Regions from separate parts of the Homo sapiens genome. Here region 2 is linked to region 1. The links come from fine-mapping of genetic effects on gene expression. Tissue or cell type: naive CD8 T cells. Region 1 holds a variant in brackets; the other region holds the start of a gene. All regions are shown on one strand. Distances are between the middles of the regions.

What was found. PIP is the estimated chance that this variant, and not a neighbour inherited with it, causes the effect.
Region 2: RAD51C starts here. The variant in region 1 is fine-mapped to the expression of RAD51C in naive CD8 T cells (Schmiedel 2018, PIP 0.95).

What each region holds. Positions count from the first base shown.
Region 1 is chr17:57,856,905-57,864,584 of GRCh38, forward strand. It overlaps CUEDC1 (CUE domain containing 1), which reads right to left. Exons shown (of 11, transcript NM_001271875.2): 11 at 4,339-6,381. Among named protein-coding and RNA genes, the nearest start is that of MRPS23, 11 kb to the left of the region's middle. RefSeq lists enhancers at 3,457-4,307, 4,308-5,157, 5,158-6,007. The variant A/AT (reference allele first, on the strand shown) is at 3,310.
Region 2 is chr17:58,689,202-58,695,283 of GRCh38, forward strand. It overlaps RAD51C (RAD51 paralog C), which reads left to right and starts at 3,401. Exons shown (of 9, transcript NM_058216.3): 1 at 3,401-3,587; 2 at 5,730-5,988. The coding sequence starts at 3,443. It overlaps TEX14 (testis expressed 14, intercellular bridge forming factor), which reads right to left and starts at 2,844. Exons shown (of 32, transcript NM_031272.5): 1 at 2,738-2,844. It overlaps IGBP1C (IGBP1 family member C), which reads right to left and starts at 2,844. Exons shown (of 2, transcript NM_001395966.1): 1 at 2,738-2,844. RefSeq lists enhancers at 3,159-3,258, 3,589-3,758.

The DNA.
Region 1 (7,680 bases):
TTTCTTCACCAAACCTGGGCTTGCCCCCAGGAAGAATCCAGTTCAGGAAGAGAACTAAGTACTTTATGCCCTGGGAGGCCTATGTCACTGTGACCAGGGAAAAAAGGGCCAGCTAGGCCTGGAGCAAGAAGCTGGCCTTTTATTGTTGGAATTCAAGACCAGTTGCAATCACTCTGTGGGGTTTTGCAGCCCACCAAACCCCTTGAAGGCATACATTTCAGGGCCAGTGTGGGCCCCTCTCTTCCTGGGGAAGCCACAGCAACTCGATCTTTAATATGCACATGAATTTGCTGCAGATCTTGGAAAATGCAGTGTGACTCAGTAGGTCTGGGTCTGCATTTCTAGCAACCTTCCAGGTTGATGCCAGTGCTGCGAATCTGCAGTTGGGATAACGAACCCACCCGAGTATGCCCACGACTTTCCTAGTTTTGGCACTGAAAGTTCTGCATCCAGGGAAACCAGGACAGTTGGTCGATGTATCCAAAGACCACACTTTGAATGGCAAGGTCAAAGCAAGGAAGCATGTGCTGTTTGTACTGAGTTTCATAGTTCCTCCCACTGGAGTCCCTGGAATAATCCTCTTGTCCTGATAAAGAACTGTGACTCTTTACGCTCTAGAAAGGCCACCTGACTCCAAGCCTCAGCTCTTCAGGGTAGATGCTGGTTTTGGGGGGCCTGAAGCTTATCTAATCTTAGTGGCTCTCTTAAGAAAAAATTTGACCAGGCGCAGTGGCTCACGGCCTGTAATCCCAGCAATTTGGGAGGCTGAGGTGGGTGGATCACCTGAGGTCAGGAGTTCGAGACCAGCCTGGCCAACATGGCGAAACCCCGTCTCTACTAAAAATACAAAAATTTAGCTGGGCGTGGTGGCGGGTGCCTGTAATCCCAGCTACTCAGGACGCTGAGGCAGGAGAATCACTTGAACCCAGAAGGCGGGGGTTGCAGTGAGCTGAGATCACACTGTTGCACTCCAGCCTGGGCAACAAGAGTGAAACTCCATCTCAAAAAAACAAAAAGAAAAGAAAAAATTTAAAATATCTTTGTTTTGCAAATTTTAGAAAACATATAACCATGTGAACAGAGTAAATTTCCCTCTGTCTCTTTGGCCTAAGGCCAAACAGGTGCTCGCATCTTCCTTCTGGGAAAATGGTGCTGGGTGTCTCAGTGGCCAGTGACTGCCACTTCTGCAAGATGACCACCAGGTGGCAGTCGATTTACACAGCCCCCTTCACATGCCCACCCTCTCCCGCCTGGCCACCTCCAGAAATTTCCAACTCTTCCTCCAGCTGGTGCAGCCCATTAATCCAACAAATTAATCTATGCTGTGATAATGGGCATAAGGAGTTCATGTGCTTCTCTCTCAATAGCATATTTGCCATTTAATGGAAATGCTGAGAGATTGTTTTTAAAACCAGATAAAGAATGCTAATGGAGGCGTTCCAGGCACTCTGTTGGATCACGGATCACTTTGGTGATGTTTTTGAGCAAGTGGGCCCTTCTGTGCTCCACAGATTGCATCTGTGCAAAGGTGCTGCATCTTAACCCCATCCCCCTGCATCCCAACCCGACCCCACCATGCTTAGTGTTTAGGTATCATCTCGGGAGCTCAGCTGCCTGGATTCATATGCAGGTACTACCACCTCTTACTGAGGGTAGATGTTGAGTAAGGACTTTAACATCTCTGTGTGAAACGCACGTAGTAATACTGATTTCATATAATTGTTGTGAAGGATTCGGTAAAGTACCCTAGGAGTGTGTGGCACACAATAAACACTCGATAAAGAGCTACCATCTTCATACCACACCTTGCCTGCCTCCTTCATTCTTCAGAGCAAATTCTCCTGTTTCCCCCCCAGACCCTATCTCCAACCAGTTGCTTCAAGAAAACAAAGGGAGAATTGAGACCCCAGCATGGTAATAACCAGGCAATTCTTGTGGGCACAGCGTTTTCCAGACCCATGATCGCCTTTTAAGTTGGGGCTGATCCCTGAGGACATCAAAGCATCATCAAGATAGGGAAGGGGCCCTGGCTGGACCAGACTTCAGATAGCCCAGCTCTGCATTTTTGCAGAGGATAAATCTGCAAGTATCGCCTTGTGGATACCAGGAGTTCAGCACTTGCAGATGAGCAAGCAATGTGAGGGTAGGTGGCTAAGGCAGTCATCTGGTCCAGCCTGTCCCTGCCCCTGGACCCATAGCCATCTTTAACCAGGCGTCAGCGGCTCCAGCAGAGGCTTCATCTCCTGCACTCCTTGTTAGACCTGGTAAGCATTCTCCCTCTCTTTCTCTCTCTGATTACAATCATCTCCAGTGTCATCTACACTAACAGGTAAAATGGTGTAAGGGTCTCAAACTTGCTGCATATTAGAAGCACCTGGGATTTTACAATCTGATTCTCAGGCTAAATCCCAAACCAATTAAATCAGAATCTCTGGGAATGAGACCCACACATCAGAAATGATTCTAACGTACAGCAAGTTTGAGAACCAGTGTTCTAGAGCAGTGTTTCTCTAGCTTTAATGTGCATAGAAGTCACCTGAAGAGCTTGTTAAAATGCGAATTCTGATCCAGTGAGGCTGGGGCAGAGCCTGAGATTCTTTTTCTAACAAGCTCCTAGGTAATAATGAATGTTGCTGGTCCATAGACCAAGCTGTGAGTGGTCAGATTGTGGAACTGTGGTTCTCAAATTTGAGCATGTATCAGAATGATCTGAAGGTCTTGTTAAAATGCACGCCAGTTTCCGATTCAGATCTGGAATGGGGCCTGATAATACGCATTCCTAACAAGTTCCCAGGGAATGGCGATGCTGCTGGTCCACAGGGCACACTTTGGGCAGCAGGGGTGTAGAGGAGGCAACACAAGTTTTGGAGTCAGGCAGCCCTCAGCCTCCTTTTCTGGCCTCATGACACTCTAGCTCTGTGATCTTGGATAAGTTACTTAACCTCTCTGAACTGTAATTATACTATCTGTAAAGTGATCGTTATTGGGCAAGATCAAATGAGCTAAAACACCTAACACATTGCCAAGTGGGCTGGTCCTCAAGCTTGACGGCAGATTTAATTACCTTGGGAGCTTTTTTTAAAAAACAAACAAAAAACCCATAGTTGATTTAATTGGTCTACGGTACTGAACATCAGGACGTTTTTTCTTTAATAGAGATGAGGTCTTGCTCTGTCACCCAGGCTGGAGTGCGGTGGCTCAATTATAGCTCACTGTAATGTCAAATTCCTGACCTCAAACAATCCTCCCACTTTGGCCTCCCAAAGTGCTGGGATTACAGGCATGAACCACAAGGGCGGGCCAGGATCT[A/AT]TTTTTTTAATTGAGACAGGGTCTTGCTCTGTCACCCAGGCTGGAGTGCAGTGGCATGATCACAGCTCACTGCAGCCTCGACCTCCTGGGCTCAAGCGATCCTCCCCCCTCACCCTCCCGTGTAGCTGGGATTACACATGTGTGCCACCAACCCAGCTATTTTTTTTTTTTTTTTTTTTTTGTAGAGATGTGGGGGGTTGGGGGATGGGTCTCACTTCGTTGCCCAGGCTGGTCTTGAACTCCTGGCCTCAAGCGATCCTGCTGCCTCGACCTGTCAAAGTGCTGGGATTCTAAGTGTAAGCCACTGAGCCTGGTCTTGGCCAGGATTTTTTTTAAAGCTACTCAAGTAATTCTGTGCAGCCAGTGCTAGGTACTGGCCTGGTACCATGGTTCCCAAACTGTGGTGTGCATCAGAATCACAGGTTGCTGGGCTGCACCCCCAGAGTTTCTGACTCAGTAGGTCTCGGATGGGACTGAGAATTGGCATTTGGAACAGCTTCCCAGGCAATGAATACCACGCAGAGAACCAGGGCTGGAGGATAATCCTGGTTTGCTCAGGACAGCTCATGTGGAGCGTCACCCTGTCCCAGGTGTGCCACTTTACAAGCCCCCCTGGGTCTGACTGGGAGTGGGGCCAGACCCTGATGGGTGGGGAGGCCCCTGCAGGAGTGCAGGAGGCACAGTTGTTGTCAGGGAAGAGAGAGGGTGAGGTCACTGAGCTGAAACATGGCATCAGGGGCAAGAGAGGCAGCCTTGGCAACAGTGACCCAGAGCCCAGGAGTAAGATGTGTGGTTGGAACCCCTAGGAGGCCGTTAGCTCAACACAAGGAAAAACTTCGACCTTGAGAACTGCCCTGTCTGGAAACGGCACCAGCTTCCTCTTCTGGCAGCGAGGGCCCTGTCCCTGTGGTGGAGGGCGGGGTAGTCCTGCTGAGCTGGAGGAGGAGGAGGAAGGAGAGATGTATCAACTGGGGCGATCTCTGAGTTCCCTTTGAAGTCTGAAATTGCACTTCCCTGCAACCTCCAGTCTGCCTTTAATCCAGAAGCTGTTTATTTAGGGAGGTGGCCGTCTGGAGCTTTCTCAACAGACTGGCTTTCCCCATGGTGTTTCCCTTGCCTGATACAGCAAGCGGTTTACAGTCCTGGGCCAAACAGGAAGGCGACAGCGCTAGACGCAGCCGGCAGGTCCGCAAGGTTGAGGTGCAGCGGTGCCGCAGGTGTCACCTCGAGAGTGCAGTCGGAGAGCGCCGCGGGTGAATGGGCCAGGCAAGGCAGGGGTACCCTAGGGATGCGACGCGGGGCTCCTGGGGACAAACCCTGCCCCAGGCCGGGAGGGAGGAGGGAGCAGGAGGGTCCAGCCCACGCCGCTGGCCACATCAGAGCACCAAGAGAACACCAACTGTTTATTACAGGAATTCCTATGAAACAGCTCCAAGAAAAAACCCACACATAGGAGGAAAAAAAATAACAAAGCAACACTCAACAGACATGGGGCTGGGGCTTCCCCCACAGTGCGCCGGGTCCTGGCGCGGGGAAGGCTCAGAGACCCGTCGAGAACTCGAGCTGGGGTACCGAGGCACTCCTCGGAGACCCCCCCCCCTCCCTCCAGGGCCCCAGGCCTGGCGCGGGGAGCAGCGGAGGGGGCGACCGCTCCTCGGCAGGGCCCCCCGAGCCAGCGTCCCGGCCCCGCGCGCGTTTCCAAACTTGGTCACGCTCGGCGGCGGCTGCGCGTCCCGGCCCTCCCCAAGCTCGGCGTTGCGAGTCCGGGCAGGGTGGGCGGGACGAGGTGCGATCGCCGGCTCGCCTTCGCTACGCCCTTGTGATCTTGGGGCCACGGAGGCCACCAGGGCCCGGCCAAGGATCGGATGCCACTCCCAACCTCCCAGAGCCGCGCCGAAGCCTCGTGCCTGCCCAGGCTTCCCGGCTCTCCGGAAGGTCTGCGCGCTCCCATGTCCAGGGCGGGGCCACGGGCTGGGCAGCCTCCCTCCCCGTGGCAGTGGTCAGTGCCGTGTAAGCGTTCCTAGAATCAGAGTTCTCCTCCTCAGATCACCCGCCCTTCTCAGGGGCACCCAGCAAGCCCTTATGCCCTAGGCGCTCACCCAGGCTGGCGGCCTTTCCGCCTTGCTCTTTAGCCCTGCACCTGCTCAAAGGGGTCACTCCAGGACCCACCGCTGCCCACCCTCGGACAGCAGGGCTTCCAGTCCAGCTGGGGAGTCAGAGCCCCTGTGAGCCCCTACTGTGGTGTGACTCCAGAACTGGCTTTTGTCTGCTGCCAAATTAAAGACCCTGCCTCCCCAGAGTCCTCCAGCTCCAGGGTGGCCACCCTCCCCATCCCTGCTGGGTGACCGGGAGCTGCTGGGAGTGAGCCCATCCCTAACAGCAGCAGCCTGATGAGGCCAGACGGGGCAGGGCAGTCGGCAGATGCTTTGCAGTAGCCCATAGCTCCTCAGAGTTCCTGGGGGACTGGCCAGGGACCTCCCACCCAGGCTGGGTGCAGGGCTCGTGTGCTGGGCCAGCAGCCCCGGGGGAAGGCTGAGATACAGGAGGACATGGAAGGGAAGGGCACAAGTGCCCGGAGGGAGCTGAGGAAGGGGGACCAGAAGGGAGCTGAGGAAAGGGGGTCAGGCAGAGTCTGTGACAGGAGAGATAGAGAACGGACGGAGGCAGAGACTCCACCTTCAGGCCAAAGAGCCTCTGGTGGGGGTCATCTTGCCCTTTTCCATATTCCAACTTTTATCTGCTTTCTGGATTTTTTTTTTTTTAAAGGGAGGTTGGTTCCTGCATTTCCACTCTTTGACCATAGGAACGCCTGGCTACAAAAGGGGCTGTAATTGGCTGCTGCCTATAGGGGCCCCAGGTCCTTCCTCCAATTGCAAGGCAGCAACTCCGAAGTTCTAAGTCCCATGGAAAGTGGCAGTGGTTGGGCTGGACTGTGGCTGGAGGATCACCGGGCCTCGGTTCTCAAGCACCATCTGTCTGGCTGCAGCTGGGCCCTTCAGCTGGGGGCCAGTGTTGCTTTCCAGCTGCCCCCACCGGGTCAGATCATCTCTGGCAAGGAAGAGCTGCTGGCATCTGGTAGGGGAAAAAAGGGATGGGAGGAATCTTTTTCAAAGGAGCCCAATGGTCTTTCCTGGTCACTGGTTCCTGGAGAGACAGTTTTGGGAGAAGTTACTAAAGACGTAAGCCCTCTCCTTTTTCCAGGGACTCGAGGTCAACCGTAGAACTCTGCCTGGGTCATCCCCCCATTCAAATTCCTAGAACCATTCCAGCTTGCCCAGCTGCAGGGACTCTGGCAGCAGGAGATGGAGTGAAGGAATGGAATCCCGGGGTGAAGCAGCTGTAGGGGAGGGCTTCAACGTGGGAGGGTACCTGGCCCATTCTAATACGTCATAGCTCAGGGGAGCTAGGCCACAAAGACCTGTAGGTGGAGAAAAGTAAACTGGGGGCAGAACTTGGTAGGACTCAGACACCAGGCTGAAGAGTTCCTAAGACTTTACTCAGAAGACTCATTCAGGCCAGGCGCAGTGGCTCACGCCTGTAATCTCAGCACTTTGGGAGGCTGAGGCGGGCCGAGGTCAGGGGTTTAAGACCAGCCTAACCAGCATGGTGAAACCCCGTCTCTACTAAAAATACAAAAATTAGCCGGGCGGGGTGGCACGTGCCTGTAATCCCAGCTACTCGGGAGGCTGAGGCAGGAGAATGGCTTGAACTTGAGAAGGGGAGGTTGCAGTGAGTGGAGATTGCACCACTGCACTCTAGCCTGGGCAACAGAGCGAGACTCCATCTCAAAAAAAAAAAAAAAAAGAAAGAAAAGAAAAAGAAAAAAAAAGATTCATTCAAAGAGCACAGGAAAAATGGAACTAAAGTGGTGTTTTGGTGGTGGGATAATCAGAGTAGGTAGGGGCAGTGAAGAGAACAGGGCTGTGACCTAGGTGATGAGCATCTATCAGGGTGGTAATGGAAGGAATAGAAAAGAGAATGAAAGGGGGCAGTCAGGAGGAGAGACTGAGTTGCTATCCAAGGCTGAAAAGAAAATCTTGGGTGCAGCTGGGGACACGAAGCAGCTCTGGAAGCCTAACTGCGATGGAGATTCAGATGTAGGAGCCAGATGCGCAGAAGTGTTGCTGGTGCTATAAAAGAGGGCGGAGGCACTGCCAGAGTGGGCAGTGAGAAGACTTCGAAGAGGGTCAAGGGCAGAGCAACAAGGAGAGCCAGTATTTAGGGAGTGGGCGGAGCAACAGGAGCCAGGAGAGAGGAAGGAGAACCTGGCTTCCTGGGGTCACAGGAGCCAAGGGAGGGCAGCTTCAGGAGAGATCAGGGGAGTGCGTGTGGAAGAGCACCATAAGAATGCAGAAGATGCTAAGGCCCTGA
Region 2 (6,082 bases), 830 kb after region 1:
CAGGCGTGAGACATCACGCTCAGCTAATTTATTTATTTTTAGAGGGAGTCTCTCTCTGTTTCCAGGCTAGAGTGCAGTGGCCTGATCTCACTCACTGCAACCTCTGCCTCCTGGGTTCAAGCTATTCTCCTGCCTCAGCCTCCTAAGTAGCTGGGACTATAGGCACACATCAACATGCCCAGCTAATTTTTGTGTTTTTAGTAGAGACAGGGTTTCGTCATGTTGGCCAGGATGGTCTTGATCTCTTGACCTCATGATCCACCCGCCTTGGCCTCCCAAAGTGCTAGGATTACAGGAGTGAGCCACCGTGCCCGGCCTACCCCATGTTTTATTAAAGTTTATTTTCTTTTTCAAAAATTTTAATGATTTATCCACACTACACAGATGTAATGTCTGCTTAATATAAACCATTTCAAATGACTTAGGTAAATCATTTAACTCTTCCCTCCCTGAAAGATTTTTTTTGAGAAAAGTGATTACACAAGAAGGTGCACCTTCCATATTTATCCCATAGCTTTGTTTAGTTCCTAGTGCGTGGTTTCAAAAACCTGGATCCCAGTTTGAAAGCATGACTACAGAGCAAATTGCATTAAAGACATCTTAAGAATGATGATGAAAATAATTATTATAGGCAAGGGCCAGAAGATTTTTTTTTTTTTTTTTTCTGAGATGGAGTCTCGCTCTGTCGCCCAGGCTGGAATGTGGTGGCGTGATCTAGGCTCACTGCAAGCTCCGCCTCCTGGGTTCATGCAATTCTCCTGCCTCAGCCTCCCGAGTAGCTGGGACTACAGGCGCCCACCACCGCACCCAGCTAATTTTTTGTATTTTTAGTAGAGACGGGGTTTCATCATGTTAGCCAGGATGGTCTCGATCTCCTGACCTTGTGATCTGCAGAAGATATTAATAGCACTTAAATTATACAGCTATAGATAGAGTTGAGTGGGGGTTTTTTTGTTTTTTTTATTTTGCTTTGTTTTGTTTTTGAGATGGAGTCTCGCTCTGTCGCCCAGATTGGAGTGGAGTTACGCAATCTCAGCTCACTGCAACCTCAACCTCCCGGGCTCAATTGGTTCTCCCACCTCAGCCTCCCAAGTAGCTGGGACTAGAGGCATGTACCACCATGCTGGCTAATTTTTGTATTTTTTGTAGAGATGGGGTTTTGCCCTGTTGCCCAGGCTGGTCTCAAACTCCTGAGATCAAGCGATGTGCCCTCTTTGGCCTCCCAAAGTGCTTGGATTCCAGGCTTAAGCCACTGTGCCAGGCCAAAGTAGTTTTGAACTTTCCACTGTCAACGAAAGAAATTCTAAACACGACTGATTCCACTGAGTTTGACCAAACTAACTGAAGACTTATTGTTGAATGTGGTAATACCATGTTTTTTCTTCACCCAAGAATCTGGGTGCTTTATAAGCATAAGCATGAAATCTCCCTGAAGATAGTATTTATGCATCCACTGAGCGCTCAAATATAGACCATATTAGAAGTTAAGCAATGGGTTGAGTGGCCAACCACATTTTGGCCAGTCCTACAAGACTTTCTTTGACCTACCAAATGGGGTATAAATGCTTCTCGTATTCTCCCCGCCAGTAGGGACTCAAAATCTTAATAGCTCGGGGTAGTAAAAAGGATGCTAGGTTTGAATCTTGGCTTTAAGAAAACTGTGCTGAGGTGTTTTGTTTGTTTGAGACAGGGTTTCACTCTATCACCCAAGCTGGAGTGCAGTGGCGTGATCATAGCTCACTCCCAGGCTGAAGGGATCCTCCCACCACAGACTTCTGAGTAGCTGGGACGACCGGTGCATGCCACCATGCCCGGCTAATTTTTTGTACTTTTGGTACAGACAGTGTTTCGCCATGTTGTCGAGGCTGGTCTCAAACTCATGAGCTCAAAGAGATCCACCTGCCTCGACCTCCCAAAGTGCTGGGATTACAGGCACGAGCCACTGCGCCCGGCCAGCTTTTTTTCTTTTATCAGAATTGATATTAAACTATATGCTGAGCTTCCATGTCCTTATCTTCCTTTTGGCATGGCTATGGCCATTTGAAATGTGTGGGATTTGCTAAAGTGCTCAACATACGTTGTTTCCTTTTTTAGATCTAAGTATGTAGAGGGCTCTGATTTGCAATATTTAGAAAGTTCTTCTAAGCTGGGAAGAAAAGTCAAGACTAAGAATCATTGCCAACAGGGCCGGGCGCGGTGGCTCACGCCTGTACTCCCAGCATTTTGGGAGGCCGAGGCAGGCGGATCACGAGGTCAGGAGTTCGAGACCAGCCTGGCCAATATGGTGAAACCCCTTCTCTAATAATAATACAAAAATTAGCCGGGCATGGTGGCGTGCGCCTGTAATCCCAGGTACTCAAGAGGCTGAGGCAGGAGACTCACTTGAACCCGGGAGGCGAAGGTTGCAGTGAGCCGACATCGTGCCACTGCACTCCATCATGGGCAACACAGTGAGACTCTGTCTCAAAAAAAAAAAAAAAAAAATCGCCAATAGGTAGGGAATAAGTTACCCCCTGCTAAATAAGTTACACTCACCTAGGCAAGGAAGGAACTCATAAACCACCTTCTAAACTGCTTGCCTTCCTCCCCGAAGTTCTGTAATTTAGAGGCGGTCACTACCACTGCTTGAACACCCCTTCCCAAGTCTGTACCACAAAAGGAGCTCTTGTGTAGCCCAGCCCCTCCTTCTCAGGACCCCAGGAGCCCAGACACACTAATGGGGACATTAGTTGCTTACTTTTCCAGCTACTGCTTAAGCTAGGCAGGCCATGAAGAAATAACGGTCTCAGTAACCTCCATGCTCGGGATACGACTCCCGGGAAGACGTGGGTGGGTGCGGGGAATGCGGACTGATCCCTCCCAGCGGCCGTTGGGGGCTGGCCCACAATCCCTCGCGAGGGCGGGAAAAGCAATGTGGTCGTTGCGGGGGGGGGGGGTCAGAAAAGGGGGACGGTCAGCGGGAAGAGCCAAGAGACTGCAACTCTACAAAGAGCACGCAGATTAATTCTAATGATTGTTCCCTGAGCTTTTCACACCAAAATAATGGTAACTGGCTAGTGTGTGCCCGTTACGCTCACTACTCCCACTCGAGATCATTCCTATTAATGACTCTGAGGCTTCACCTAACAGGCCACGGTGGAGGCAAGGAAATGTGGCGTGGAGAACCCACTGGGCCTGGCTCTCCGTCCTATGGTCTCCGTCCATCGTTTTACAGTCAGGGTGTACATTTGATGAGGAATCTCTAAATGGGATTTTGGGGAATCAAAACGGAATGGTGCATAAGTGTGAAAATTTACAAGACTGCGCAAAGCTGCAAGGCCCGGAGCCCCGTGCGGCCAGGCCGCAGAGCCGGCCCCTTCCGCTTTACGTCTGACGTCACGCCGCACGCCCCAGCGAGGGCGTGCGGAGTTTGGCTGCTCCGGGGTTAGCAGGTGAGCCTGCGATGCGCGGGAAGACGTTCCGCTTTGAAATGCAGCGGGATTTGGTGAGTTTCCCGCTGTCTCCAGCGGTGCGGGTGAAGCTGGTGTCTGCGGGGTTCCAGACTGCTGAGGAACTCCTAGAGGTGAAACCCTCCGAGCTTAGCAAAGGTAACGACTCCTGATGGCAAGCTGAGGCACACCGGCCGCCGTCAGCGCCGCCTCAGTCTTCGTTCTCTCGCCTCGGCCTTCAGCCCAGTCTCCGTTAGATTCTGCTTCCTCCCACGTCCATGTTTACAGCGTGAAAGAGCTCCTCGACTCCACTTACAAGTTGTCTGAATGGTTAGGAGAACTGTGGTCGTGAAAACATTTACTAATTGCTTTTCCTCTGGCAATGCCTGCTGAATGCTTTGAGGATTGTCTCATTTAACCCTCAACCCGCTTACGTAGATTATTATATTCAGTATATGGATGAGAGAACTGATATCTTGGGGAGCTTAGGTAACTTTTCATGCTAACTGGGTTAGGAAATACTGGAGTCAGAATTGGTTGTCTAATTTTTGCTGTTCCAAGATCCAAGGGGTAAGGGTTAAATTTCAGAAATGCAGGATTTTGTGTAGGACTAGAGACACTAAGAATGAGAAAGAGAGTAGAATCCCCGGAATCTTGAGGAAGCATAGAAAGAATATTCTCTTACGTAATTAACTGAAACACCCAAAACCTCATATTCCAGAGCATTGCAGATGGGAACCACTGCATCCTGAGACATACAAATATGAGGCTGGCGGTGGTCACTTGTTGTGCACATCTCTCTATGACATGTCTGGACCTGTGCTATTCACTGAAGAAGATGGAACAGAATTTTAAGTTACTGCCCTTACTGATGGAAAATACAGAGGTTTCAATTCGCCTCTAAAGAATAAGTCTCGTGGACCCAGCCTTAACTGTTTAAGTCATACCGCGCGCAGACTGTGTCCCCCAAGATTTGATGGGCTCTTTTTTCTTCAACAAGTTGGCTTTTCAAAGAAGAAATGTGAGACCCTGAATAATAATGATCACTAACAACTATTGACTACTTTAGATGGTCTTGATATTCTACCAAGCTTTTTACATGTATCGTCTCATTCCCATTTTATAGACGAAAAAAATCTGAGCAAAAAAGAAAAAGTGAAGTAACTTGCCCAAAGTCATGCAGTAAGTGGTGCCAGGATTTACAAACCCAGGCAATCTAATTCCAGCATTCAGGCTCTTGATAGGATTTTCATTTCCTAAATGCTGTCATCACCATTGTCTTTTATTAGCCCCATATTTATGGCTCATATTCTTATCAGATCAAGCACTGATATATCAAACTGATAAGTGATGTCATCCTCACCATTATTTCTTCACCAGCTTGTTTTGTAATTGCCATTTTCTTTTCTCAGGCCACACTGTCAGATGGGTGAAATTGTGTAGTCGAGGAAGCATAAATGTATTCTTTAAAATGCTTGTGCCTTGAATAATTGTTCTCATTAGTTTGGAGTGATACATGAATTTTTTACATCAGTTATTTCCATGAAAAGTTTTTATTATAAATAATACATGCATATGTGCTTCTTAAAGTTGTACCTTGTTTTAGGCAGTTAAAACATCTATTTTCATTCTCATCTGAAAAATAATTTGTATACCTTATGAGAGCGAGATAATTATGGCTTCATAAGACCAAAAGGGATAGTAAAAATATGGTAATAGTGAGTACATTTTTATTTCTGCTTCCTGAGACACTTGTAGGTACTCAGAAATGCTTTAGTTGAATTGTTTCTGAGGTAATAGGTAATTCTTTATGTGATGACTAAGAAAACGAATACCTTTATTAAGCTGAATTTTTTTTTTTTTTTTTTTGAGACGGAGTCTCGCACTGTCATCCAGGCTGGAATGCAGTGGTGCGATCCAGGCTGGAGTGCAGTGGTGCAGGTTCAAGTGATTGTCCTGCCTCAGCCTCCCAAGTAGCTGGAATTATAACGCGTGCCACCATGCCCGGCTAATTTTTGTATTTTTAGTAGAGACGGAGTTTCACCATGTTGGCCAGGCTGGTCTTCAACTCCTGACCTCAGGTGATCTGGCTGCCTCAGCCTCCCAAAGTACTGGGATTTTAGGCATGAGCCACTGTGTCCGGCCAAACTGAAAAATTAAATGGTTGATAGAATGTTGCATTTTTATGTTTCTCCACTCCTAGCATCACTGTTGTCTACAAATTAATAAAGACAATCGATTATCATGTTACACTTTTAAATCTCTAAAATTAGGGTTCTTTTTTTCTTATTTTACTTTCAGAAGTTGGGATATCTAAAGCAGAAGCCTTAGAAACTCTGCAAATTATCAGAAGAGAATGTCTCACAAATAAACCAAGATATGCTGGTACATCTGAGTCACACAAGAAGTGTACAGCACTGGAACTTCTTGAGCAGGAGCATACCCAGGGCTTCATAATCACCTTCTGTTCAGCACTAGATGATATTCTTGGGGGTGGAGTGCCCTTAATGAAAACAACAGAAATTTGTGGTGCACCAGGTGTTGGAAAAACACAATTATGGTAAAATAAAGTGTTCTCCTTTTAAGGGTGGGTTTAATAACATATTATGAAAGTAGTATTTTGTACTATCGTCAGGAAACCAAATAAGATATAT